Homo sapiens: one gene and its partners. The protein of the gene in region 3 purifies or fractionates together with the protein of the main gene of each other region. This does not show direct contact. Each region holds a gene or a part of one and is shown on either strand. Other genes may lie near its edges.

The links.
Region 1: the proteins of ARHGAP35 (region 3) and AAMDC purify together in Homo sapiens (affinity purification with mass spectrometry, with the first as the bait; one large-scale study listed by BioGRID). This does not show direct contact.
Region 2: the proteins of ARHGAP35 (region 3) and MCTS1 purify together in Homo sapiens (affinity purification with mass spectrometry; one large-scale study listed by BioGRID and IntAct). This does not show direct contact.
Region 4: the proteins of ARHGAP35 (region 3) and CBS purify together in Homo sapiens (affinity purification with mass spectrometry, with the first as the bait; one large-scale study listed by BioGRID). This does not show direct contact.
Region 5: the proteins of ARHGAP35 (region 3) and CHCHD3 purify together in Homo sapiens (affinity purification with mass spectrometry, with the first as the bait; one large-scale study listed by BioGRID). This does not show direct contact.
Region 6: the proteins of ARHGAP35 (region 3) and TCERG1 fractionate together in Homo sapiens (co-fractionation; one large-scale study listed by BioGRID). This does not show direct contact.
Region 7: the proteins of ARHGAP35 (region 3) and MTPN purify together in Homo sapiens (affinity purification with mass spectrometry; one large-scale study listed by BioGRID and IntAct). This does not show direct contact.

What each region holds. Positions count from the first base shown.
Region 1 is NC_000011.10:77,827,644-77,831,143, reverse strand, and holds part of AAMDC (mth938 domain-containing protein), read right to left. Parts: intron 1-3,500. UniProt on the Homo sapiens protein: May play a role in preadipocyte differentiation and adipogenesis.
Region 2 is NC_000023.11:120,617,601-120,621,100, forward strand, and holds part of MCTS1 (malignant T-cell-amplified sequence 1), read left to right. Parts: 3' UTR 1-3,500. UniProt on the Homo sapiens protein: Translation regulator forming a complex with DENR to promote translation reinitiation.
Region 3 is NC_000019.10:46,919,997-46,923,496, reverse strand, and holds part of ARHGAP35 (rho GTPase-activating protein 35), read right to left. Parts: coding exon 1,141-3,500; intron 1-1,140.
Region 4 is NC_000021.9:43,058,836-43,062,335, reverse strand, and holds part of CBS (cystathionine beta-synthase), read left to right. Parts: coding exon 1-25; intron 26-1,789; coding exon 1,790-1,895; intron 1,896-3,032; coding exon 3,033-3,110; intron 3,111-3,367; coding exon 3,368-3,500. UniProt on the Homo sapiens protein: Hydro-lyase catalyzing the first step of the transsulfuration pathway, where the hydroxyl group of L-serine is displaced by L-homocysteine in a beta-replacement reaction to form L-cystathionine, the precursor of L-cysteine.
Region 5 is NC_000007.14:132,788,591-132,792,090, forward strand, and holds part of CHCHD3 (MICOS complex subunit MIC19), read right to left. Parts: intron 1-3,500. UniProt on the Homo sapiens protein: Component of the MICOS complex, a large protein complex of the mitochondrial inner membrane that plays crucial roles in the maintenance of crista junctions, inner membrane architecture, and formation of contact sites to the outer membrane.
Region 6 is NC_000005.10:146,481,833-146,485,332, reverse strand, and holds part of TCERG1 (transcription elongation regulator 1), read right to left. Parts: exon of another isoform or gene 2,742-3,500; coding exon 2,606-2,741; exon of another isoform or gene 1,794-2,605; coding exon 1,704-1,793; intron 196-1,703; exon of another isoform or gene 83-195; intron 1-82. UniProt on the Homo sapiens protein: Transcription factor that binds RNA polymerase II and inhibits the elongation of transcripts from target promoters. Regulates transcription elongation in a TATA box-dependent manner.
Region 7 is NC_000007.14:135,946,360-135,949,859, forward strand, and holds part of MTPN (myotrophin), read right to left. Parts: intron 1-3,500. UniProt on the Homo sapiens protein: Promotes dimerization of NF-kappa-B subunits and regulates NF-kappa-B transcription factor activity. Plays a role in the regulation of the growth of actin filaments.

The DNA of each region.
Region 1 (3,500 bases), on a different chromosome or scaffold from region 3:
AGACAGGGTCTTGCTTTGTTGTCCAGACTGGAATGCTGTGACATGATTACAGCTCACTGAAGCCTCGACGAATTCTCCCATCTCAGCTTCTCAAGTAGCTGGGACTACAGGTGCATGCCACCATGTCTGGCTATTTTTTTTTTTTTTTTTTTTTTTGGTATATTTTGTAGAGACAGGGTCTCGCCATGTTTCCCAGAATGGTCTCAAACTCCTGGACTCAAGCAATTCTCCCACCTCAGTCTCCCAAAGTGATGGGATTACAGGTATGAGCCACTGTGCCCAACCATAAAGTGCTATTTCATTGTGGTTTTCATTATTTATTTCTTGATGATCAATGATGTTGAGTATCTTTTCATTTGCTTGTTGGCTATTTGTATATTTTCTTTGGTGAAATGCCAATTATTTGTCTTTTTTATTATTGACATGTGTTTTTGTAGAGCACCCAATCCTGTTGCTGTTTGGGGTGCCACTGTGTAACCCACACGGACCTATGGGACTGAATAAAGGGGGGCAAACGCGGGAATAAAAGACAAGAGACAAAAGAGTATATTTGGAAGAAGGGGTCGGGGGCACCTTGCCTCTAGTGGACAAGGGCCCTGAGCTTTACACAGCCCTCCATATTTATTAGGCAAAAGAGATAGCAAGAAGTGGAGGTGGGTGGGGGGTGGGTGTCGTCAGCAGTTTGATTCACGGCAGGTTTGTAAGACTGCATTCTTCAAACAATAGGCGCTAGATTTCTCAATAGATAACTTTAAGGAGCCCACTGCCAGGGAGTGAGGCCCTCAGCAAACCTTTTGGTGGCAGGGCAGTATCAGTTTGCCCACATTCTGCATTCATGATAAACAGTTTGCTGTTTGATCATATAGCCTCCAGCGGAATGCTTAGTTGGTCATGATCCCTTTGGCCTTTTGAGCTCCCAACATGTTTTTAACATATTCTAGATGAATCTCTTACTGGATGTATTTTTTCCTATTTTGTAGGTTGTCTTTTGACTTTCTTTTCTTTTCTTCTTTTAGGTACAGGGTCTTGCTCTGTTGCCTAAGCTGGAGTGCAATGGCACAATCAGCTTACCACAGCCTCAAAATCCTGGGCTCAAGTGATTTTCCCACCTCAGGCTCCTGAGCAGCTAGGACTACAGGTGTGCATCACCATGTCTGGCTATAAAAAAGAATTTTGTAGAGATGGGGTCTCACTATGTTTCCCAGGATGGTCTCAAATTCCTGGCCTCAAGTGATCCTCCGGCCTTGGTCTCCAAAAGTGCTGGGATTACAAGCATGAACAACTGTGCCCAGACTTGATTTTCTTTCTTAAGCCCCACATTTGAACTGATGGTCTTGACTTTTTGATACATGTTTTTGTAAAGCACACAAGTTTTTAATTTTGATGAGGTCTATTAATTTATTTTTCCTTTTGTTGCTTGTGGATTTGGTGTTATTTCTAAGAATCCATTGCCATATCCAAGGTCTTAAAGATTTACCCTTGTTTTCTTCTAAGAGTTTTAGTTTCAGGTCTCACAAATGTAGTCGTCTGAAACATTCTGAATTATTTATATGGAATGAATTAGGGGTTCAACTTCATTCTTTTCTATGTGGATCTCCAGTTTTCTCAGCATCATTTGTTGCAAAAACTATTCTTTCCCCATTAGATGGTCTTGGTATGTTTATTTTAAATCAATTTACTCTAGATGTATAGGTTTATATGTGAGTCTCCATTCTGTTCCATTGACCCAAATGGCTATTTGTTATTCAGCCTGACTACTATAAAAAATACCATAAATTGGTAACTTAAACAACAAAAATTTATTTTTCACAGTTCTGGAGCTGGCATATCCAAGATAAGGTGCTGGCCTGACTGGTATCTCGTGAGGGCTTTCTCCTTGGGTTGGAGATGTCTGCCATCTCTCTGTGTCTTCACATGGCCTCTCCTTGGCATATGCATGTGAAGAGAAAGAGCTCTCTCTCTATTTCTGTTCTTATAAAATTACCAGTTCTATCACATTAGGGCCCCACCCTCATGACATTGTTTAACTTTAGTTAACTCCTTCCTATAGGCATTATCTCTAAATACAGTCACATTAGGGGTTAGGGCTTCAACATATGAATCTGGGGGAGACACAGTCTGTCATATGCCATTACTACACACAATCTTGATTACCGTAGCTGTGTAGTAACTTTGGAAGCCAGGAAGTGTGAGTCCTTCAACTTTGTTCATCATCTGAAAAACTGTTTTGGATATTCTGGGTTCTCTGAATTTCCATATTAGTATTAGGATCAACTTGTCAATTTCTGCAAAGAAGCCAGCTGGAATTTTGATGGAGAGTGAATCTGTGGAATCTGTACTTCAACTTAAAGGTATTGGCATCTTATCAATATTAAATCTTCCAATCCATGAATATGTGTTTTCTTCCCATGTACGTCTTTTAAAATTTCCTTGAACAATGTTTTATAATTTTCTTTCTTTTTTTTTTTTTTTTCGAGATGGAGTCTCACTCTGTTGCCCAGGCGCAGTGCAGTGGTGCGATCTTGGCTCACTGCAAGCTCCACCTCCCGGGTTCACGCCATTCTTCCGCCGCAGCCTCCCGAGTAGCTGGGACTACAGGCGCCCACTACCCCACCCGGCTAATTTTGTTTTTGTATTTTTAGTAGAGATGGGGTTTCACCATGTTAGCCAGGATGGTCTCGATCTCCTGACCTTGTGATCCATCTGCCTCGGCCTCCCAAAGTACTGGGATTACAGGTGTGAGCCACCGCACCCGGCTATAATTTTCATTCTTGTATTTCTTTTTAAGAAATCTCTAAATATTTTCTGATTCTATTGTAAATGGAGTTATTGATATCATTTTTTTGCTGTTTGTGTATTTTGTTTTTTTGAGACAGAGTTGCGCTCTGTCACCCAGGCTGGAGTGCAGTGGTGCAATTTTGGCTCACTGCAACCTCTGCCTCCCAAGTTCAAGTGATTCTCCTGCCTCAGCCTCCCTAGTAGCTGGGATTACAGGTGCGCATCACCATGCCCAGCTAGTTTTTTGTATTTTTTAGTAGAGATGGAGTTTCACCATGTTGGCCAGGCTGGTATTGAACTCCTGGCCTCAAGTGATCCACCTACCTCGCCTCCCAAAGTGCTGGGATTACAGGCAGGAGCCACTGTGCCTGGTCTGATTTCATTTTTGGATTGTTCATTGCTAATGTACAGAATAACACAGGATTTTTGAGTATTTATCTTGTATCCTGCAAATGTGCTTGCCTATTTGTTCTAATAGCTTTATTTGTGGATTCTTTAGGATTTCCTACATACAAGATCAGTAATTTAAGATAGAGCTTGTTTTACTTCTTCCATGCCAATCTGGATGCCTTTTATTTTTTTCTTGACACATTGCACTGGCTACAACCTCCAGTATAATATTAAATGTAAGTGGATATAGCAAACATCCTTGTCTTGTTCCTGACCTTAGGAGGGAGGAATTAGTTTTCAGCATTCCATATATTAGGCATGGGTTTTTCATA
Region 2 (3,500 bases), on a different chromosome or scaffold from region 3:
GCCAATATGTGAATATAGGAGACTTCAAAAGCATAATCAATTACTCCCTTAAAGTTCATTGTAAGTGTTCTCAGAACTCTACCACCTAGAATTTAAAGACGGGAAGATTTACTTTATAATTTTAATTTCTTATCACAAGACTCGATTGTCAATAACTGTTAACGTCCATTTAATAATCTATGGTGAAATAGGTAATTTCTTCTTATTTTCACAAGCGTGTGAGTAAAAGACTGGGTTTTAAGCAATAAATCATTTGTTCTAACTAAGCACATGCTTGGAAAAAGTGCTATTTTTCCAAACGTATGCCTTGAAAACAAATACAATTCAATTGCCTTTTTGGTTCATGGGAAGCCATACTGCGGTGGCTTCCAAGGTTGGCCAACCTGTTTTTATTCTTACCACCTCTTTCAAAAAGGGATGTTGTCTTTGTCCCCAAATTCTGGTGTTGTCCTATGCTGATGCATAATGAAGCCCTGAGGCTTGGAAACTTGCAAACCAATAAGATGATTTAATGATGAAACGGCATGTCAGTTTGACACTGTCTATTAATAGTCCTTGAGTGAGCTTAAATTTGAGACACTTTTAAAAGCGGCATGTAGTTCCAGTTTTGCTTCCCTTATCAGTGGAGCTTGAGATGTCTGTTCCTGCCGACTGATGTTTTAACAAATTTTTAGTTTCTCATGATGTGAAAGATTTTGTATGCACGTCTTAGTCTGGATACTGTTTTCATTAGTTCTAATGCTGCTGCATGCAAATTTTGTTTAAAACCAAAATTGACTCTTCACATCTGGACTAGATTGGACATGGTGAGGAGGCTGGAAGGAAAGTCCTTTTTGCTCTGTAGGCTCTGGACAGCTTTCTTAGAGTTGACTTATCCAGGATTAAGAAAAAGTTTTCTTTTGCGTGACTAAATTCTTTCCACAGTTTGCTTGTGTAAGCATTTTAGATTTAAGCAAGTTCAACTTGAAATATATTTGAATATGAAGTAGAAACAGCTTCATTTAATGGGATAATAGCAATCTCTAACCCATCAAATTAATATCTACTAAATAGCTTCCAAAAAGCACTGACTGGAAAATATTTTTCACTATCATGGCTTTATTCAGTTTCAAAAACAGTAGGGGCTAAAATGTTTGGACATTTATCCTGCATTTATTTTGTGTTTCACAAGGTTAAAATTTTGTATTTTGTAAAGTGTCTGAAAAGGAGTCCACAAAGTATTTCTGCTTTCTTGCTCCTGAATGCAAAGGTCTGAGAGAAGGCACATCCTCATTAGCTTCTGGGTGTTGTCAAACCCAATCCTCTCTCAAGTACCAAATGCCCAGATACATTTATTGGGATGCAGGAATCTCACTTAAGTAGCGGTTTTTGCTGATATAAAGACAAACATCTTGATTAAAGTGTAGGGAGATAGAAACTATACCAATTTGGGCAATTTTGGCTCTAATGTCTAATTTGTTGTGAAAGGGGAAGATGTTCTAAGCTAATGTTCTTAAAAGTAACTTATGAATTTCTTAAAAATAGTTTTTAAAAAGCTGTTTCAGGAAAAGCTGTTTTATTGCATGGCACAGATTAAATGTACAGATGTTATCTTAAAACAATGAAAGAGTTCCCCTAATTTGAATATTCAATACCAGCTGTTATTCACATCAATATTTTAACATTTTACCATCAAGATATTTAATACAAAGGATTGATACATATTTAACTGTTTAGAATTCTAGTTAAACTTGTCCAGATGAGTAAGAGGGAAGGAGAAATAACATTCTCCAAGTACCTACCATGTGCACAAGCTCTACTTATATATCTTGCTTAATCTTAGCAATGATTCCATGAGGTAGATTTTAACTCTCATTTTACAAACGAGGAGACTAAGGCTCAGAGAGGTCATACAACTTCAGGAAAGTTGTATGACCTCTCTGAGGTAATAAATGGCAGAACTGGAATTTGAACCTAAGTCTCCTTGTCTGCAAATCCTGTGTTTTGCAGAAAACTCTCCTCTTGTATTTCATAAAATGTTAAATCTTGGCCCAAATTCAAATCACCATCTTTATGGGTTATTGGAGAGAGGTATAAGTTGGCAAGACTCTGTTCCACGATGGGAAAAAATGGGTAGGATTTGAATGAGTAAGAGTGGGATACTTGCACAGTATCATATTTGTGTGGCTGGAGTAATGTTTTTCTGTTTCCCTCTTAGCAAAGTGGAGTGGGAGAATCTTGAAATTGAACTCAGTCCTGAGGTCTGATTTTCCTATTATTAGTCACTTTCAAGCCAGGTGATTTGTGACCATTTAAATGTTATGCTATTTCAAAGTCTTCTACATCTTTAGAAAAGGACATGAGGGAGGGTTAGTTAAGTGGGGCAATGAGAATGTAGAGTGTAATGTGCAAAAGCAGGACTAGCAGTTGCTTTGAAGATATCTGGGGAAGGCCGGGCACGGTGGTTCACGCCTGTAATCCCAGTACTTTGGGAGGCCAAGGTGGGCGGATCACGAGGTCAGGAGATCGAGACCATCCTGGCTAACGTGAAACCCCGTCTATACTAAAAATACAAAAAATTAACCGGACGCAGTGGTGGGCGCCTGTAGTCCCAGCTACTCGGGAGGCTGAGGCAGGAGAGTGGCATGAACCCGGGAGGCGGAGCTTGCAGTGAGCTGAGATCGCACCACTGCATTCCAGCCTGGACAACAGAGCGAAACTCCGTCTCAAAAACCAACCAAACAAAAAACAAAAATTAGCTGGGCATGGTGGCGCGTGCCTGTAATCCCAGCACTTTGGGAGCCAAGGTGGGTGGATCATGAGGTCAGAAGATTGAGACCACCCTGGCCAACATGGTGAAATCCTGTCTCTACTAAAAATACAAAAAAAAAAAAAAAAAAAAAAATTAGCCGGGCGTGGTGGCGCGTGCCTGTAATCCCAGCTACACAGGAGGCTGAGGCAGGAGATTTGCTTGAACCTGGGAGGCGGAGGTTGCAGTGAGCCGAGATTGTGCCACTGCACTCCAGCCTGGGCGACAGAGCAAGACTCCGTCTAAAAAAAAAAAAAAGATATTAAAATTAATGACAGGAAGAGTTTGGGTTCAGTTATAATTTAAGGGAAAAAACATTGAGGGGCCTAATCTACATTTTGCTCCGGATCCAATGATTTAATTTTTGGGAAGAAAAATCCAGTGATTAAAGTCATGCAAGGAGATGGCCTGGGGCTTGCTAAAAGTCAGGTTGCAGTTTCCATTGCATTCAAGAAAATCAGAAAAATAAATACAACTTTTAGAAGAAACTAAGTTTTCTCCCATTCATGTTTAGCTATTGGGGGGTCTCATACTTCTGGACTTGCTTAGACCTATGCTATCTAATATGGTAGCCTCTGCCCATCCATATGTGGCCACTGAGAACTTGAAATGTGACTAGTTTGAATTAAGATGTGCTGTAACTAAAATACACCCTGGATTTCAAAGACTTAATAAATAATGTAAATTATCTATTCTTTCCTGTTGATTATAT
Region 3 (3,500 bases):
CAAGGGGACAGAGTACTGCTTACAGCTCTCTGCCCTGCAGACTACAAACTACAATTCTACGCAGGATAAGAGACTTCATCTGCAGCCGGGCGCGGTGGCTCACGCCTATAGTCCCAAAACTTTGGGAGACCAAGGCGGGCGGATCACGATGTCAGGAGATGGAGACCATCCTGGCTAACACGGTGAAACCCCGTCTCTACTAAAAAATAAAATAAAATAAAAAAATTAGCTGGGCACGGTGGCGGGCGCCTGTAGTCCCAGCTACTCAGCAGGCTGAGGCAGGAGAATGGCGTGAACCCAGGAGGCGGAGCTTGCAGTGAGCGGAGATCGCGCCACTGCACTCTAGCGTGGGTGACTGAGCGAGACTCCGTCTCAAAAAAAAAAAAAAAAAAAAGAGACTTCATTTGCTCCTGTCTCTACATATGACGAGTAGGCCCAATGTTTATAATGTATACAGTTAACTTTTTCTTTTCTCTCCCTGCACCATTTGTGATCCCTAAATAAAATCCGAGTTTCTGACTGATAGCAGCAGCAACTCCCTTGAAGATAAAATAATAGACTGGATGGTATTCCAATTTAACAAATACGGGACAGGTTTATAACTCTCAGTGGCAAGATTCTCTTTTTTCATTTATGTACTCAAAGACTCGTCACTGATTTGTGTGTGCAAATCATCATCCAATCCTTCACCAATCTCAAATGCAGCAACCTTTACAGATCAGCAAGGGAGGAAGGATCATTTAAGAGATGTATGGATGAAATGTTATGTTTAGCAGTGAGAGACTGCGGCAAGCAGTTTTGAGTTCTGGTGTTTCAGTGAAGGGAGAGCAAGTGTATTGTCACTGCGCTTGGCCACTTGTCAAGACACTGACAAGTTCTGCATTATCTCCTCATTTTGCTAATTAATTAACTATTGTTTTAGGCAACAACAACTCAGACTATCTATCCAAAGTCCTAACTACTTGAGAGCTGCCAATAATGGTAGCTAATTGAGGCACTGCTTTTTTATGTTAAGTCAAATACACACACAGGGCAGTTTTTTTTTTACCAGAATAGGTTGTCCTTGAAAAATCATCATCAATCAACCCTCACCGAGACGCTGTACAAAACACTATGACTAATCCTAGACTGGTGTCTTACCTTAGTGTTCCTCCTTAGGCTGCGAAGAATATTCCTCCTCCGCGGGTCTTCGTCTGTTTCGTATGGAATGACAGCATTGTCCCCTTTATAACCCTGGGATGCCTGATCCTCCTCTTTCTTCCGGATGGGCCCCAGCTCATCATCACTCCCCACGCTGAAGCTGGTCCGGTAACTAGCAAACCGCCCCAGCCGGGTGCATCTCGTCCTGTACAGCACTGGCTTGCTCACGATGGAAACCTTGCGCCCTCGCTCTAGAGAGCTGGTGTCCATTTCACTGTCAGAACCATTCCCGCTGCCGTTGGACTGGGCTTTGTTGATATTCCGAATGGTGATGATTTTGCCTTGGGTGCTGTCATGGGGCACGGAGTATATGTTTTCTTCTTCATTCCTTGGCTTCACCACAGCATCCATGGGTTCAGCATAGTCAGAAGGATCAAACCCATCCTGAGGCAGCCAGGGGCTAGAAGACACAGACTTCCTCTGTCCATCCCTATGGCCTTGGTCTAAATAAGATAGATCCCCCTTTGTAATTTCAAAATGGACAGGAGGCTTTGGTTTGACTGGCGGAGGTACTTTGTTGTTCAGTTTACTCTCAAAATTGCTCATAATGAAAGACAGCCCATCATTTCCCTCCAGTTCCATAGAGAGCTTAGAATGGTCTTTGGACAGAGAAGGCAGTGATGTGTCTTCTCGAAACAGGCTGTAAGATGGCTCGATATCTTCTTCTGAATCCTGCAGGTTTGAGTTGCAGAGCGGTGATCCTGCCCGGGGGGAGTTAAACACCTCTTCGGTGGTGCTACAGGCCTCGGCAGCATTATCGTACATATGAGTAGCCTCGATTATGTTCTTTTTTTCCACCACATCTTTAAAAAATGGGTGAAAGATCTCAAGTTTATGCTGGGGTTGGCTACAGGGGATGCTTGTGAACCTTCCGTCAATTTCTTGAGCAATCTCCTCCCCCTCAGTTAGCTGTTCCCTACTTAAGTCATTGTCCAGGACATCTACAGCGCCATCAGTGAGTGCTACAAGCTGAATAGGGATAATATCCTGCACTTCACAAAGAAAGGCACGTAACATAGCCAAAGAGGCCTTACGTTTGGCTGAATAAAAAACAATGTACCCATGAACCAACCGGCTCTTTCTGATGCTAAAGGAGGAATGGTATGAAAGAACAGACAGTTCAATCCGCTTCTTGTGCAGTCCGATTGGTAGTTCAAGTAAAACAGAGTTGTTGCTTCCACAATGGGAAGATTTACAGGTTTGGGACTGAAGGACAGGAAAAAGTATGTCATCTGCACTAAAAGGATCTCCACACATCAGACACATAACAATTCGCAGATCAACATCAGCCAAATCTTTGATGCTAGCAGTAGAACTGACCAGGTTTAAGTTACGCTTAGAGTCCAGGAGTCCCTTCAAAACTTGACTGATTTGCTTTTCATTAATGTTGCGTCCGTAACCAATGCCAGCAGAAGCAGGGTCGAGAAAGACACACTGAAGTTTGCTAGCAATTTGTTGACCTTGCTGTATTAAGCTATGCAGAGTCTCTCCACTGGTGTCTCCTCTCTTGTTAACCAAAATTAATGTAAGGGGGAGATGGACTAAATGATTATCCCGCCGGCCCAGCGTGGACTCTCTACTCTTCTCTATACTTTCCACTACATAGGATAGCGATTCCTTTGAATTGTAAAGGCAGAGACAGCCGTGGGGCTGAAATGTTGGCGTCTGGAAAGAGTTCACAGGAAGCCTGACATTCCCCTCTATTGGCCTCAGGGAAAGCTCATACATTTTACCATCTATCACATACTTGTCATCATTTGTACAAAGAGCTCGAATCTCATTGGCCAACTCTCGGGCAAGGCCGTCTTTGCCCAATATAACCAAGTTGATTCTATCAATGTTAGGGTCAGAGAGTGAATTTTTCTGATTCCGGTCAGACGGCCGGATAAACCGAGAACTAATCAAGTGCTCAATCTTAGCGTCCACACAAGCTGGGCAGCTGGGGCATGTCTCCTTTGTTGGGTGGTACACAAAATGAATGTGTTTCAGAATAAGGGCATCACGCTCTGCTTGGAGCTTTTGTAATGCTTTAAATCGCTGTTCCTCTCCCAGAACATCCTGAATAACACCCATCTTCTCCTTGCTGGGCTTAGCATCCAGCTCCAGTTCATAAAACAATTCTGAATATTCCAAAAGCAACTCCTGAAATTCTTCCTTTGCTTTATCTATAATTTGCTTTTGGTGTTTGCCATAAATATCCATGTATACAGATTCCTCCAGCCACTGGTAGAAATCCTCATTCATAATAAAACTACGGGCCTCTTCCCAAGGCTTTCCGGGAGTTATGAAAGGAGAAGTCT
Region 4 (3,500 bases), on a different chromosome or scaffold from region 3:
ATCGCGCAAGAGGGGCTGCTGTGCGGTGAGTGGGTGGCGGGCACGGGGGTATGGGGAAGGCAGAGATGGCTAGGGGGCACTGGGGATGGCTGGGGGCGCACCCTCAGTCAGCCACCGACCTGCATGTGTAAGACAGCAGTTCTGAGGAGTGTCACTGCGGCGGCCACGAGCCTCAGGTGTTGTCTGCCTGCCCAGTGTGGTCACCTGCTCAGGTGAGGGCAGGAGGCCATGGGGCGGGGCTTCGAGCTGCCTTCCAGAATGTGTTTCTAGAACAAGGCTGAAGCTCTCATGGCACTTATTGTTTCTAATCAAGTCCACCAGGGCCCCTGGGGCGGTGGCTCTGCATTGACGGGGCCCATGGCCGGGACTGGGTGCTGCGAGCACCCTGGAGCAGCTGGGGAGGGGACTGGAGCCTGAGGCTGTCCAGCTCGACCCCGCTCACCTTCCTCCTACCCCGTGCCCCTCTGCCCACCTGCTTGGGGGTGGACAGACCAGGTGGCCGCTGGCAATGCCACTGACTAGCCACACAGGCAGCAGAGGCCCTGTAGGGACCACAGTTGATCTAGACCTCTGGGGACTCGGAGAGCACACACCAGCTTCTAAAACGCAGGCAGGGACATGTGAGGTTTCTACATGTGCATTCCGTGTGTCATGTCACTTTGGGGGTGGTGACAGGGAAAGTGGAAGGAAACCAGCCCTCAGCATGGCCAAGTCCCCCGTTAGCTGAGCCCCAAACTAGAGATTGGAAGAAAGTCTTGATTGAAAAACCATTTCCCAGCCAGGCGCGTTGGCTCATGCCTATAATCCCAGCACTTTGGGAGGTCGAGGCGGGTGGATCACCTGAGGTCAGGAGTTCAAGACCAGCCTGGCCAACAGGGAGAAACCCCGTCTCTACTAAAAATACCAAAAAAAAAAAAAAAAGTAGCCGATGTAATGGTGCATGCCTGTAATCCCAGCTACTCGGGAGGCTGAGGCAAGAGAATTGCTTGAACCTGGGAGGTGGAGGTTGCAGTGAGCCGAGATCACGCCATTGCACTCCAGCCTGGGTGATAAGAGCAAAAACTCCATCTCAAAAAAAAAAAAAAGAAAAGAAAAGCATTTTCCAGATGAATCTGTCACGAAAGGTGACTTGGTGCCCATAATCGTTGGGCTCTCCCTGTCTCAGTCTCCCTGCTCCCCATGTTGGTGGAGAAACAAGCCCCTGCCTTTGGGGCTGGAAAGCAGGTCCATGGGCCCCGTTACAGAGGAGGGTGCCTCTCTTCCTGTGGGGGCTCCTACTGCAGACTTAGACCTTCCCGACTGCTGTGTGCACCCTCAAACTAAGCCCAGAGAAGACGCCTCTGACTCTGACTTCAGGGCTCCTAGGGACAGCTGGTGTCACTGTGAGCCTTGGTCTCTTGTTTATAAAGCAGAGCCCAGTGTGCAGTCAGGCAGCCTGCAGGCGTGGTGCTGGGGGCTCCGTCCTCGTAGCATCGCTGGCTCTAGGCTCAGGGCCAGGAGGTTTGCCAGGGGCCGCAGCCCCACTGCAGGCATTTCCCTGGCACCAGTGCCCACCCCAGCTCATTATGAAGCCCCGAGTGGACACAGAAACTCCATGGTGCACAAGGAAGAAGCCGATGCTCACGGAGAAGTGGGGTCCTCCCAGCCCCTCTCCCCGAGGCAACCCCTCTTGACGGATCCTTCGGAGTGTGTCTGACATGCTCCCATGCGTGCACGTGCACAATTCATGCATACGTGTGCACCCACGCACGCTCACCCTGGCGCGTCTGACTCGTGGCCCTCTCTGCAGGTGGCAGTGCTGGCAGCACGGTGGCGGTGGCCGTGAAGGCCGCGCAGGAGCTGCAGGAGGGCCAGCGCTGCGTGGTCATTCTGCCCGACTCAGTGCGGAACTACATGTAAGACACGGCTTCCCTCCCAGGTCCCTGCTCCTCTCCATCCTGCCACCCTTCCCTGGATGCCTCTCACGCCTCACCTGAGAACCGGCAGCCAGAACTGGGAGGGGAGGAGGCCAGCGGGGCCCTGTGAGCACCGCCTCCACTCTCCTGCCCACGTGCCCTCACGCTGTGGGGCTTCCCAGCCTCTTAATGCTGTGAAAATCAATGCACACTCGCAGTGACAGCCCTGACAGGAGGGGCATGAAAGACGGTGGCTCCCTCTCTGTCCCTCCTGTCCCTTCCTCTCTGGTGTCTGTCCCCCTCACTGCTCTGGGGTCCGTGAGCTCCAACGGGTAGCCCTGGCCACATGGACTGACGTCCTCTTGGGCCGGGCCCTGTGCCACCTCCTATCCACCCTGACTCCCTCTGCTGCTTCCCCCAAACTCCAGATTGGGACCGAGTGCTGCCCAGGTGGCCCCCTAGGACTTGCTGTGACTGTTTTGCCCAGAGGCCCCTCGGACAGTAACGCCACAGACCTCGCTGGTCACCGGGCAGCCAGGCTGAGACTGGCGCTGCTCTGCACCTGGTCTCCGGAGGCGGTACCAGGGCGGGTGTCTACAGACCCCCATGCCCTGTCCCCTGCACCTGCAGGGTTTCCTCCATGGCCTGCAAGCTGCAGCGGCTACACAGCTCCCGAGAGCTCAGCTGCCCTTGGAGGGCCAGGCCTGGCTGGTGGGTGCCCCCAGTTGGGTTCCCCAGTGTGGGGTGATTCACATCTGGTGCCCAGGGTCAAGATGCCCTGTGCAGGGCTCCTGCCCACCCCCGTCAGTGCAAGAACACCATCTCCCCACATACTTGGCCAGCCTGCCATGTGTACCTGTGCGTGTGAGTGTGTGAGGGGCAGAGAGCGAGCATGAGAGGACGTGTTTATCTGAGTGCCTGAGCGATGGCTGTGTGCATGCTCACACACGCTTGTTGGCCATGGGGGCGGGAAGTCCAGCCCCCAGGCTTCCCCCTGGGGCTTCCAGCCAGCACTTGGGGGTCTCTGCTGCACCAGTGAGGTCCAGGAGAGGGGCTGGGCAGGCAGTGCGTGCCACTCAGCAGGGGCGGGGGCCCGGTGGGGCCCTGCGGGGACTCGGTGACTCCCCCATCCCGCAGGACCAAGTTCCTGAGCGACAGGTGGATGCTGCAGAAGGGCTTTCTGAAGGAGGAGGACCTCACGGAGAAGAAGCCCTGGTAAGACCGCTCGGCCGGAGACCCGCTGCCTGTGCTGGCCCTGCCCAGTGTGACAGGCAGGAGAGCACTCCCCCGTGGCCTGTGCTGGCCCTGCCCAGTGTGACAGGCAGGAGAGCGGTCCCCGTGGCCTGTGCTGGCCCTGCCCAGTGTGACAGGCAGGAGAGCGGTCCCTGTGGCCTCCTGCTGAGGTGCTGCCGGCGGGGGTGCGAGAGCGTTTGTCCTTATCCTGATCCCCCCGACCTGCCCTCTTCCCTCAGGTGGTGGCACCTCCGTGTTCAGGAGCTGGGCCTGTCAGCCCCGCTGACCGTGCTCCCGACCATCACCTGTGGGCACACCATCGAGATCCTCCGGGAGAAGGGCTTCGACCAGGCGCCCGTGGTGGATGAGGCG
Region 5 (3,500 bases), on a different chromosome or scaffold from region 3:
CATATCATGCTAAGAATGTTAGGCTCTCTTTCAGAAAGAGACAAGATGGGGCCTGGCTGGTCTGAGGATGAGCAGGCCAGTCTCACATAAAGACACTAAAAGAAGTAACATTTTAATAACCCCTTTAGCCACATTCACAAAATACCGTTACATGTATTAAAATTCTAATCCTCCAAGATAGCACAGTGGTTCAGCTGATTTGTGGTGACTCCTTGAAGACATGTGGGACCACCACAGAAAAGCACCAGGGCTGATCTATAAACATTTTGTCAAACTGCACTCACTTGCTACCAAAGGGTGGCAGGGGTGGTACAAAACCATCTCAATTCTATCAGGGAAATTAACAAACACAATGGCAGGCTGGATTTTTAAAAAAGATGAATTCATCTGTCAAACATTTTGGGTTATTATTATATTCCAGCTATGCGACAAAACCTGCTCCAACTCAGAACTCAGGGCTTTTGGCTGGAGGGATCCGTAGTCTGGTGGGGTCTGTGTTATTCAGCTTTCACCTTATAGGTTCTACTGTCTCTGTATTGGTTCCGTAAGTACTGCTGTTGGGCTGAATTTCAACGCTGCATAAATTTAACACTGCATAAATTAACATAGGAAATTCCCTAAAGAATGAGGGAGAAGCTTTGCAAGTTATAAAAAATTGCTTCCTTCATTTAAGGAACTGCTAACACTTAATCTTAATGTGGAGAAAGAAATTCCTTGCTTTTGCTCATCATTCACGTATCTGGGCCTGCAGAAACTCCTTTTATAAACAGCTGGGTAAATCACCAAAAGAAGAGAGTGGTTCAGGCATGAACACTGCTCTTTTCCCAAGTCTTTTTCTCATTCCAGCCACTGAAGAACAACCGGCAGCTCACAAATAAGAACAGCGCCCCTGGAGACCTGAGATTGCGTGTCATTTCCGCTTATTAAAACCTTACTAACCATCCTAACCGCTTGCCTCAAATATTTCTGTTAAGCAGTAATCTCATCAACTGATTTTTGAATCACAGCTTTCTTGGAGGGGTTGACTATCATAGCAGCATGCCAGCTACTGGTTGTGTTGATAATTTAAGAGAAATGATGGCAACCCTGGGTTGCTAACCAATCATCATGAAGAGAAGAAAAGCGGTTTGTTTTTTAAGATACCACTCAGGGTGCTTGTCTCTGGATGAACTTACCCAGCGCCTCACCAAGACTTCAGGCCTCATAAAGCTGGGTAGAGAAGCAGGAAGGTCTACCTAACCAAGGAAAAATGAAACTGGAGATGTGTCCTGGCACAGACCTGGTCTTAAGACACGAGTTTTACTAAGGAGGGTCAGGAAAAGTGGGGAGTGGGAGACACTGGAGCTTCGATGAGGAAAAAGCCAGAATGAGAAGACTGTGCATAAGACAGGAAGGAAAAGTCATCTATAAATTGAATTTATGGGAAGCACAAAGCGAGTTTTGCCTGTGCACCAAGTACTGTTCTTCACTACCTGGAAATCTGATTAGATCACTTATTTTGTTTTCAATATGTGTCTATTCCCCTGCAGCAAGAGCTGTTTGTTCTTTGTTCCTCCTGCTTTGGAGGAAATAGAAGTTAACTTTTTTCTGCCTGGATCTTGTTTTATATCTTCTATGACAAATGCTCTGTATAATATTCAAATTAAGTTACAAGTAATTAACTGTTTATACAGCTGGCTGCAATAACAGACAAAACACTAACATACTGCAGTTCTAATTGAAGGATGACCATGGGAAAAGAAATACCTATTAAGAAAAATGAAAATCTATTACCATGGTAGTATTTCTTCTATTAAACTCAGATTTAAAAAAAGAGAAAATGTCACGAAGCAACGATTACTCTCAGAAAGTGGTTTAGAAAAGGATTCCTATGATGGAAGAGGTTGGGATAGGAAATTTAAAGTTTGGAATTTTGTTTGCTTTGATCTGACTCTAAATTCAAAGGGCTGCCCTACCAAAAAAATGGGAAATCTATTATGAAATACCCACGTGTCAGTCACCCTGTGACCAGCATCCCAGCTGGGCAATTAATAAATGTCATCAAGCGATAATGATAAAGCAGCTTTCGAACACAATAAAAACATGCTCCTGGGGGGCTTCCCAGAAAGTTAACCTTCTTGATTATCTTCGTGCTCTCTGAAAGTGGCCACCGTGTACATCGGGGGGACCCTGATGTGGGTCGGGGAGAGAAGCAGGGTGACTGGGAGCAGTAGAACCAAGGGAGGGTCTGGTCACAGCTGTGAGCTAGCCAGGGGACTGGGGTCACCTACTGTTTCAATGGGAGCAAGAGAAGAGGGGAAGGGGATCTCTTTTCAAGGCTTCCATCTGATTCCCACATCATCTTCCAATTTGTTCTTAAGGCTAAAGATTCATTCCTAGGGTTGGTCTGATGAGACCTCTGCCAGGTAGCTTTGACCTATAGGGAGTGATAGCTCCCCATCTCCCAAAAGATGGAAAACAAGGACTTGGCAGGACCTCTGAAAGGTCAAAGACCTTTAATGCAATTCAGGCCAATGGGCTCTAAGAGCAATGGTTTTCAAACTTTGGGTACAGAGTCTCCTGGGAAATTTGGTCAAAGTTCAGATGCCCAGGCCTCACCCCAGACCTTCTGAATCAGAATCTCCAGGGATGGGGATTGGGTGGGTACATTTTAAGCAAACCCCTCAGGGGATTCTGATGCTCACCCACATCTGAGATCTGACACGACAGGAAAAATACCCTGGTTTTGAATTTAAGAGTGGGCTGTTTGGTCTGGGTTCTGCCCTTCTACAGATCATTTAAATTCTCTGGAAGCTAATTTTGCACATGAAAAAAATGAGGTTGGGTTATATGATCTCTAGGGTCCTTTTAGCTCCAACAGCCTATAAGTCTATTAAATCATTTGCATCTAATGTAGAGTTCATCTGAAAACAATGATAACATACAGCTTGCTCTGGCAATAGGTTTTTCTTTCAAGAACCTTGATTTTTAAGCAAAAGCTACTACTATGTTTTCAGGACCCCTTCATACTCAAAATATGTCACAGACTTAGGAGCAGAATCCTGGTCTAATATAAATACAGTTCACCGGGGAGATGAAATTGTCCTTCAGAAGGCGGACAGAAATTGTGCCAGGGCAAATTCCTCCATATGCACTGATCTTGAGGCTTTGACTTAGGAAGCCAACCAAATACTGGAGATGTCAATGATATTTTAGAAACGAGACAACGGGGTGCACTAGCCTTAAGTTGGAGAGCTGTCACATTAGGATCTAGCCTCATTTACTGGGTCCTGACCCCAAGTTCCTCACTGTGGCCAGGTTCCTTTCTGATCTCTCCAAAGAGATCAGCAGGAAGCATGTAGGTCTGAGGTGGGGCTGTCTCATTTACAAGACGTCCTTATTGTGAGCTGAACTAACTGTTTGCGTGGCTACTGTCCCACTGCCTGCTTACTGACTGAAACTTCTGCTATGGTTTGGGGGACCCCTGACAGACTCATCATCTAACTGCAGGTCCCACACTG
Region 6 (3,500 bases), on a different chromosome or scaffold from region 3:
TTAGAGCCATGAGCACCATAAAGAAATTAGAAAAGGCAAAGAGACAATACTTAGATTGATTAGAAGGCACTGGGACAAGTACCTTAATGAAATGAAGCTGGCTGTACTAACACCTGGAGGAAAAACAGTCCAGGCAGAAGGAATAGCAAACACCAGAATGACTGGCTTGTTCAAGTAATATCAGGGCCAGTGTGGCTGTAATCAACAGACATTAAAAAAGACCATCAAGAGGTATACAGGGGTAAGTCTATGTAGAATATTAGAGACCATGAAAAGAGCTTCAATTTTATTCTCAATGAAATGGAAAGCACTAAACAGTTTTAAGCAAGGGAACAGTGACTTAATTTAGTATCACTTAAACTTTAAAATTAGCCTGGCTGCTGTGTGGAAAAAGAACTTGACTAAAGAGGAACAAGAACAGATGGAATGAAGGAGATCAACAATAGGCTACACAGATGATAAGGGTTGTTTATGGTGGCTTGGATTAGGGTGTTAATGGGGGAAATGATTAATAAAAGGTGAGATTTTGAAAATTTTTTGAAGGTAGATTATAGATTTGCTGATAAGACTGTAAAGGGGAAGTGGGAAAAGTAAGGAATCAAGGCTAATTTATAAATTTTGATAGAGCCATAAACTGAAATGAGAATAAAAAACTCACACAGAGTTTGTTTTTTAAAAAAGATACAAAGCTTAAAATGAAGATGCAAATACATTAAGGAAGTTATGTCTTTCTATTCCAAGTACTAAAATACATATCTGGCACATTGTAAATTTTCTCCCTTCATTCAAGTCCATGATTAGACCTACATGCATAATGGTACACACCATGTGAAGAATTATTTCAATTGTTACATTAAAAATATCAAAGATGGGCACTACTGTTACCAAATGAAATCTTACAGCTTAACAGCACTATAGCAAGTGGTTCCACATACTCACCATTTTATGGAGATCAGTGTCAGGATAGTTCAGGTAATTCAGAAATTAAGTAAGTTGGAAGTGTGCAATGCTTTAGAAGAGGCAATCACGAAATGATATGTGTCACTGAATCATCATGGGAATAAAAAGCAACACTAATTCAACAGGGACCCTTAAGTATCCACTGTTTTTCTGAGTTTATGATGGAAACAGATATTTTAACAGATGCTACTTAGATGTGAACTTTGTATATGCAGTTGTGTATAAGACATAAACCTATGTTCAAGTACTATCTACAGGACACACACACACATATATATGTACATACTGACACATAATGGTCAAGAAGGCTGTTCAGTATTCAATAATAAACCAGTGTTCAACGGTAGTCATATCTATTAGTTGGGATTACAGTAGCTTTTTTATCCTTTTTACTCATCTGTATTTTGCTATTTTTCTACTCTAAATTTGCATCATTGGCCCAAACAAGCAAATTAGTAAATGCATTTGAAATCAATTTTAAAACCATACTACACATAACCTAGGTATATGAGGCATAAGGACAAAATGTTTACAAGACAACAGCCATGCTCATAAGGGCAAAAATATCCAAGAATTTTGAAGTAGAAATGTCCACACACAGACACATAATATGTTCTAAGATGCAAGACTATATTTTTGAAATGCTGTATCAGAAAAAAAAGGGATGGTACTTTATTCCTTATAATTTAAAAACTATGTTGGCAAGAGATATACATTCTTAGTTAATGCCATTTTCCTTTTACCTGTTTTCTCTCTTTAGGATTGAGAAGTAAGTACCGGGGATCAAAAACTATCTTGTGCAACTCCTTCTCCCACGTTGAAAAAGCAGACACCTTTAAAATAAAAACGTATTGCCTCATAATTAAGTCTCCTCTAAAAATATAAAGGTCATAATTTTGCTTGAAATCTACAGGATATCTGTTTATAAAGGAGACATAAAACCATACTGAAGTTTCCATCACTAATAAATGACAAGCAGTGGGAGGCTAGCAATAGCAAATTTCCACACTAATTGGCTCTGAACATTCCTATATTATATAGAAATAACAGACACTTAATTACTCATTAAAATAACTACTACTGTGTGACATTTTAAAAATCAGTACATCAGAAAAAGCCTTGAAGATTTATATTTTGATTTCTCATGCTTGCTCCAATCTTGTGAACAATGTTGTGATTTAAAATTGAACAATTTTACTTATTCAAATGAATCTGTGAATATAACCAAATAGTTGAAATCCCTTCTCAATTAAATTGCAAATAATAATATCACAAAGTATCAGTTCTCCTTTAACAAAAGCCATTCTCAAGATATTAAAGGAAGAATAATCATATATACCTTACCTATCCCAAGCAGTCCGCCATTCTGTAATGTTAATACTCGTCTTATATTACTCACCACAATTTAATGACCCAATAAATGTTAAGTGTTATTTGTACTTAAAAGGACAGTAAAATGGCATTTAGTTAAATATGATAAGATTAGCCAAGAAAAAGGCTGTTGCAAAAAATGTACAGTAATTTTAAAAATCCCCTTATCCCCCCCCATAACATGAGCACTAACCTTAGATTTGACCTTTTAGCAAGACATATTTATATTACTTATACAAAACAGAAATATCTCCCCCAAAGATTGTTTTCTGACCCCTCTCTCTAGCAGCATGTCCTTGAACTGCTTCATTCGAGCCTCCAGAGGGACAATGGCCCTTTCTCGGGCAGCTTTAATTTCAGCTTCCATGGCAGCTTCTTTCTCTGAGTCAATGTCTTTATTATCGTCTCTCCTATAAAAAATAAAATATAAGACATCAACTGACAAAATATTAATTCTCAGATCTTATTAGAAATCTTAAAATCAAAGGAATTTTCAAGACTCACTACTGAGCAGCATATTTTTGGCAAAAACAAATTATATTGAGGGTTTCAAATGAACTCTAAGGGATAAATAACTTTCATAATAACAAAATTAAAATGGGCTTCTAATGATTTACAATGGCTACATTATTAGGAAAAAAATACACCTTTAATGGGCTGTCTCTCCCTGACACTGGTTAATAACATAAAAAGGGAGCAACCTTACTTAAAAAAAAAAAAGTTTAACACTGCAGTAAACCTCTATGTGTCAGAATCAAACAGCACAAAATATAATTTTTTTAGTTCTTGAAATATAGAAAAAACAGTATTTTCCAAAATGTTTTACATTATAAACACATAAAATATTTTGTAAAATCTAATAAAAATTGGTATTAAGTGGTATAATGTTTTAGTAATCTCAAACATTCATTTTAAAAATAAAACTAAAATATCTGCAATCTTGGCCAAGTGAATATGTAAGATATATACCTTACCTACCTGACTTTTTATTACTCACTTTCTGGGTGATAAGTTGAGATTTAAGTTGAAGGACAGGTCCCAGAGAGCAACATGGGCCCAGGAGTAGTTAGGTGGAATTAGAACTGTTCATCAATGACTAAACTACTTCTTGTTCCTCCAAAAATGCACCTCAGGTGTAAGGGCAACCCTGTTTCTGTGTGGTACTCAAG
Region 7 (3,500 bases), on a different chromosome or scaffold from region 3:
AGGATACACACTCACCTTGTAGCACTTAGGGAAGCATCATCTTACCACTGAGGGTTAGGGTTTTAAAACGATGTGCCTTATAAATTCCAAACTATTTATGAGCTAGAGCAGGGGTTGGCAAACATGGCCTGGATATTTGTTTTTGTATATGAAGTTTTACTGGGATGCAGCCATGCCCATCCGTTTATGTATTGTCTATGGCAATGTTACATCAGTGACCATGTAGTTTGCAAAGGCATGCCTTCGCAAAAAGGGTATGCCTAGGAAAAAGTTTGCCAACTTTTGAACTGAAGGACTTTTTAATACCACCTTTTAAATATCCTTTTCATTCCAAAAATTTCCTGGTTAAGATTTTTTAGGGCAAATAAAGGGGAACCTTATTTCACTGAGATAATTATAATTCTAAATGACACATGATTATACAGGCTGCCTATTATTGCTTTGATAAAAACAGGCATTGGGCTTGGCCTCTCCACAGACTGCTGTACTGGTCAGTTGCTACTTTTCTATTATGAGTGTCTGTCTCATACACTCACATCAGCTTCTTCACACTCTCACTCCTCTGCTGCTGCTACCTCTTCAAGGATGCTTCTTGAGCCTGCATTAATTATCTGCCTCCTTTCCCTTGTTTCTTCTTGCTAGTTTTACCATGTTTCTCAGGTACTCTGGATTTGGTGAAAATACCAGAAGCTTTGATCATCTCATATTATTTACCTTATTTGGTTCTAGCTTATTTTTTAAAAACTTCAGTGTTAAATATTTGTTTAGAGTTATTCACATACTAATTCACACTAACTTCTTACTTATCATTCCCCTTCTTGCATCTCAGTCTTTCCTTTTGGGTTTAATTTGCTTCTTCCTGAAGTGCATCCAACTTGTCACTCCATTTGTTGCTTGGGGGTACTAGGCACCTCTGGGCGTGGCCTTGGATCAGCTCTTGCCTTTTGCAACAATACTCTCTTGCTCTTATTTGGGAATTTCTTCTTTGGCCCTACCCTGCTTGTTTTCTGTCTTTCAAGGTTTCCTTATCATTTCTTGTTTGATGGATCCAATTCTTCTGGTCCAAAGCAGATACTGATCAACTCACTTTAAAAACATCTTTTCTGTCACTGGGGGCAAAAAGAGAACACCACAGAATGTGCTCACACCTAAACTTTGAAATGGAAGCCTCTCATCTGTTGATCTCTACATTTTTCTCATTTACCAGCTTGCCAATTAAAAATGAGGCCACAAGTCTTTTTACCTGCAGATATGTACATGTTCCATTTCTCATTAACTGACCTGACAGTACTTCTGAAAGGCAATTTCAAGTAATAGTAAGAACACAGGCTGCTGAATCCTACATCTTGGAACAAATCTTGATTCCATTACATTGTATTTGACTTTCAAGCAGTTAGACCACCCCGAGATAAATGGTTTCCTTATCCATAAAAGAGAGATAATAATACCTAAGTATTTGGGTTTATAATAAATTATAAATGATACAGCATATCATATAAAGTTTGATTTCAAATATTCTAGCAATCATGTTTGTTTTTCTGATTTCTCCCCTATTAGTTGTGATCATACTGAGTTTCTAAATCCCTGTTTATTATTTTGCCTTTTTTCGTATGCTAAGGATAAATCAACTGGATAATGTATTGGAAATGTCAATGAATCTGGAAAGTTCTTAAACCAAGTCTTTTCAAGTGAATTCATAATAATCCATAAGAATTCTACTTTTGATAAAAGGCAGAACAAATTAGACTTAATATAAACACTGATTATAACTTTTAAAAGATGCACTGGAACAACTCTATTTTAGCAACTAAGAATTTTTGAAAGAGTATAATCAATTTTCAAAAAAAATCTGCCTAACAAAACTACAGGGTATCCATTAAAGAAGCTTATGCAATAATAAAATCAAAGTAATTAATTTTGAAAAAGCAGAACTAAAATGTACTATGCTGATTTCAAAAAGAAGAAAATCTCTTTCATATAAAACAACAGCTCTACATGGTTACAAACGGTCTGCTACCAACATAGCTATCTCCAAATGTCACTTATTTGGCTAAAAAAAGTCAAGGTTCAGACACAAAAGAACAAAATGGGCATAAGCAAAAGAAAAAACAAACTAGTTAAAAGTAAGACAACTCACAATCAATAATTTAGCAACACAGTACACACACAGAGAACCTTCTGGGATGACATCTTAGGGCCTAATGTACATGCAAATCAAGCCAACTTTTCAGGAACTCATTTAATGTTTTCAACTCTTTAACAACGGAAACTTACAACCACAAGGTCTCAATGACCTGAAGCCTCATGTTTTGGGAATAAGGAGTACAGAACAATGGTTTGGGTTCTCTATAGAATAAAAAATATATCCTGTTTTGTTTTTCCTAGGAGGACAGAGAGGTCTAACACAAAGAAAAATTGTTCTGATCTACAGTTTGAGATATGGTTAGAAGGAAAGAGTACATTTAGGGCAGCTCATTTAGTAAATGACAAGGGACCTAAGCAAAAAATGATCCCATGGAGGTTTTTATTTTCAGAGAACAAAACCCTTGGCTGGGTAAAAAAAAGGTCAGGGAAAAGGCGGGAACGAAGGGTAAGGAGGGAGTCCTCCATTTCTTTTGAGAGCTAGCAGATAGGCTGAAGCCATGGAAATAAAGCCAATGCTGAGGAAGAGACCTGGGACAGGCCAAAAATAAAAATAAAAAAATCAGATCATGGTCATGTGTCTTAAATCCAGGGTCAAGCTGTGCCTCAACTGTACAGTTATATAAATTAATAAGATCTCTTTACTGTTTAAGCCTGTCTGAGCTGGGTTCAGTTACTTGCAAGACAGAGTCCTAACTAATACAATATTGAAATTATATAAATCTTTCATAAACAGCAAATCTGTTTTTGATACAGTAAGCAAAAATATTTCCCAGGGATGAAATTATCTAGCAGTATTCAAAGGTACTTTGTAATCCTTTCGCAGATCTTGGGGAGGGATGAACAGTAAAGAGAAAGACAGTGACTGGAAATCTTTGCGAGCACACCCTATCACAGATGCTGGATCCACTAGCGGCAAAGAGTAATATTTCCATTTATTTTGGCTTTTGGACAAATGCATCATTCTTATCAGTAAGGTATAAAAATTGCTCTTGATATATAACCCAAACCCAAACAACAACAAACATATTTAAAGAAATCCAGTAATTGTGGTTAACATGAAGCTATGGATAGAAAAAACCCTAGCTCTATTTAGAGGACCCAAATTAACTGCTTTTAGAACCATATCTTTACAAAGTTGTCAATAAAGTGTTAAGAGATAAATGTGCTATCTTCTTTCCCAATTTTCTTCGTATCTTACTGAAGCTGACACTACAAAGCATTAAAATCCTCTTCAGCCTTAGTTATAATAAAAGCTACTACTTATTGAGTGCTTACTATGTATCAGGCACTGTGGCAAAATGCTTTATATACATCTACTCATTTCTGTTTTTCTCTTGCTTCTTTTAGTAGGGCTT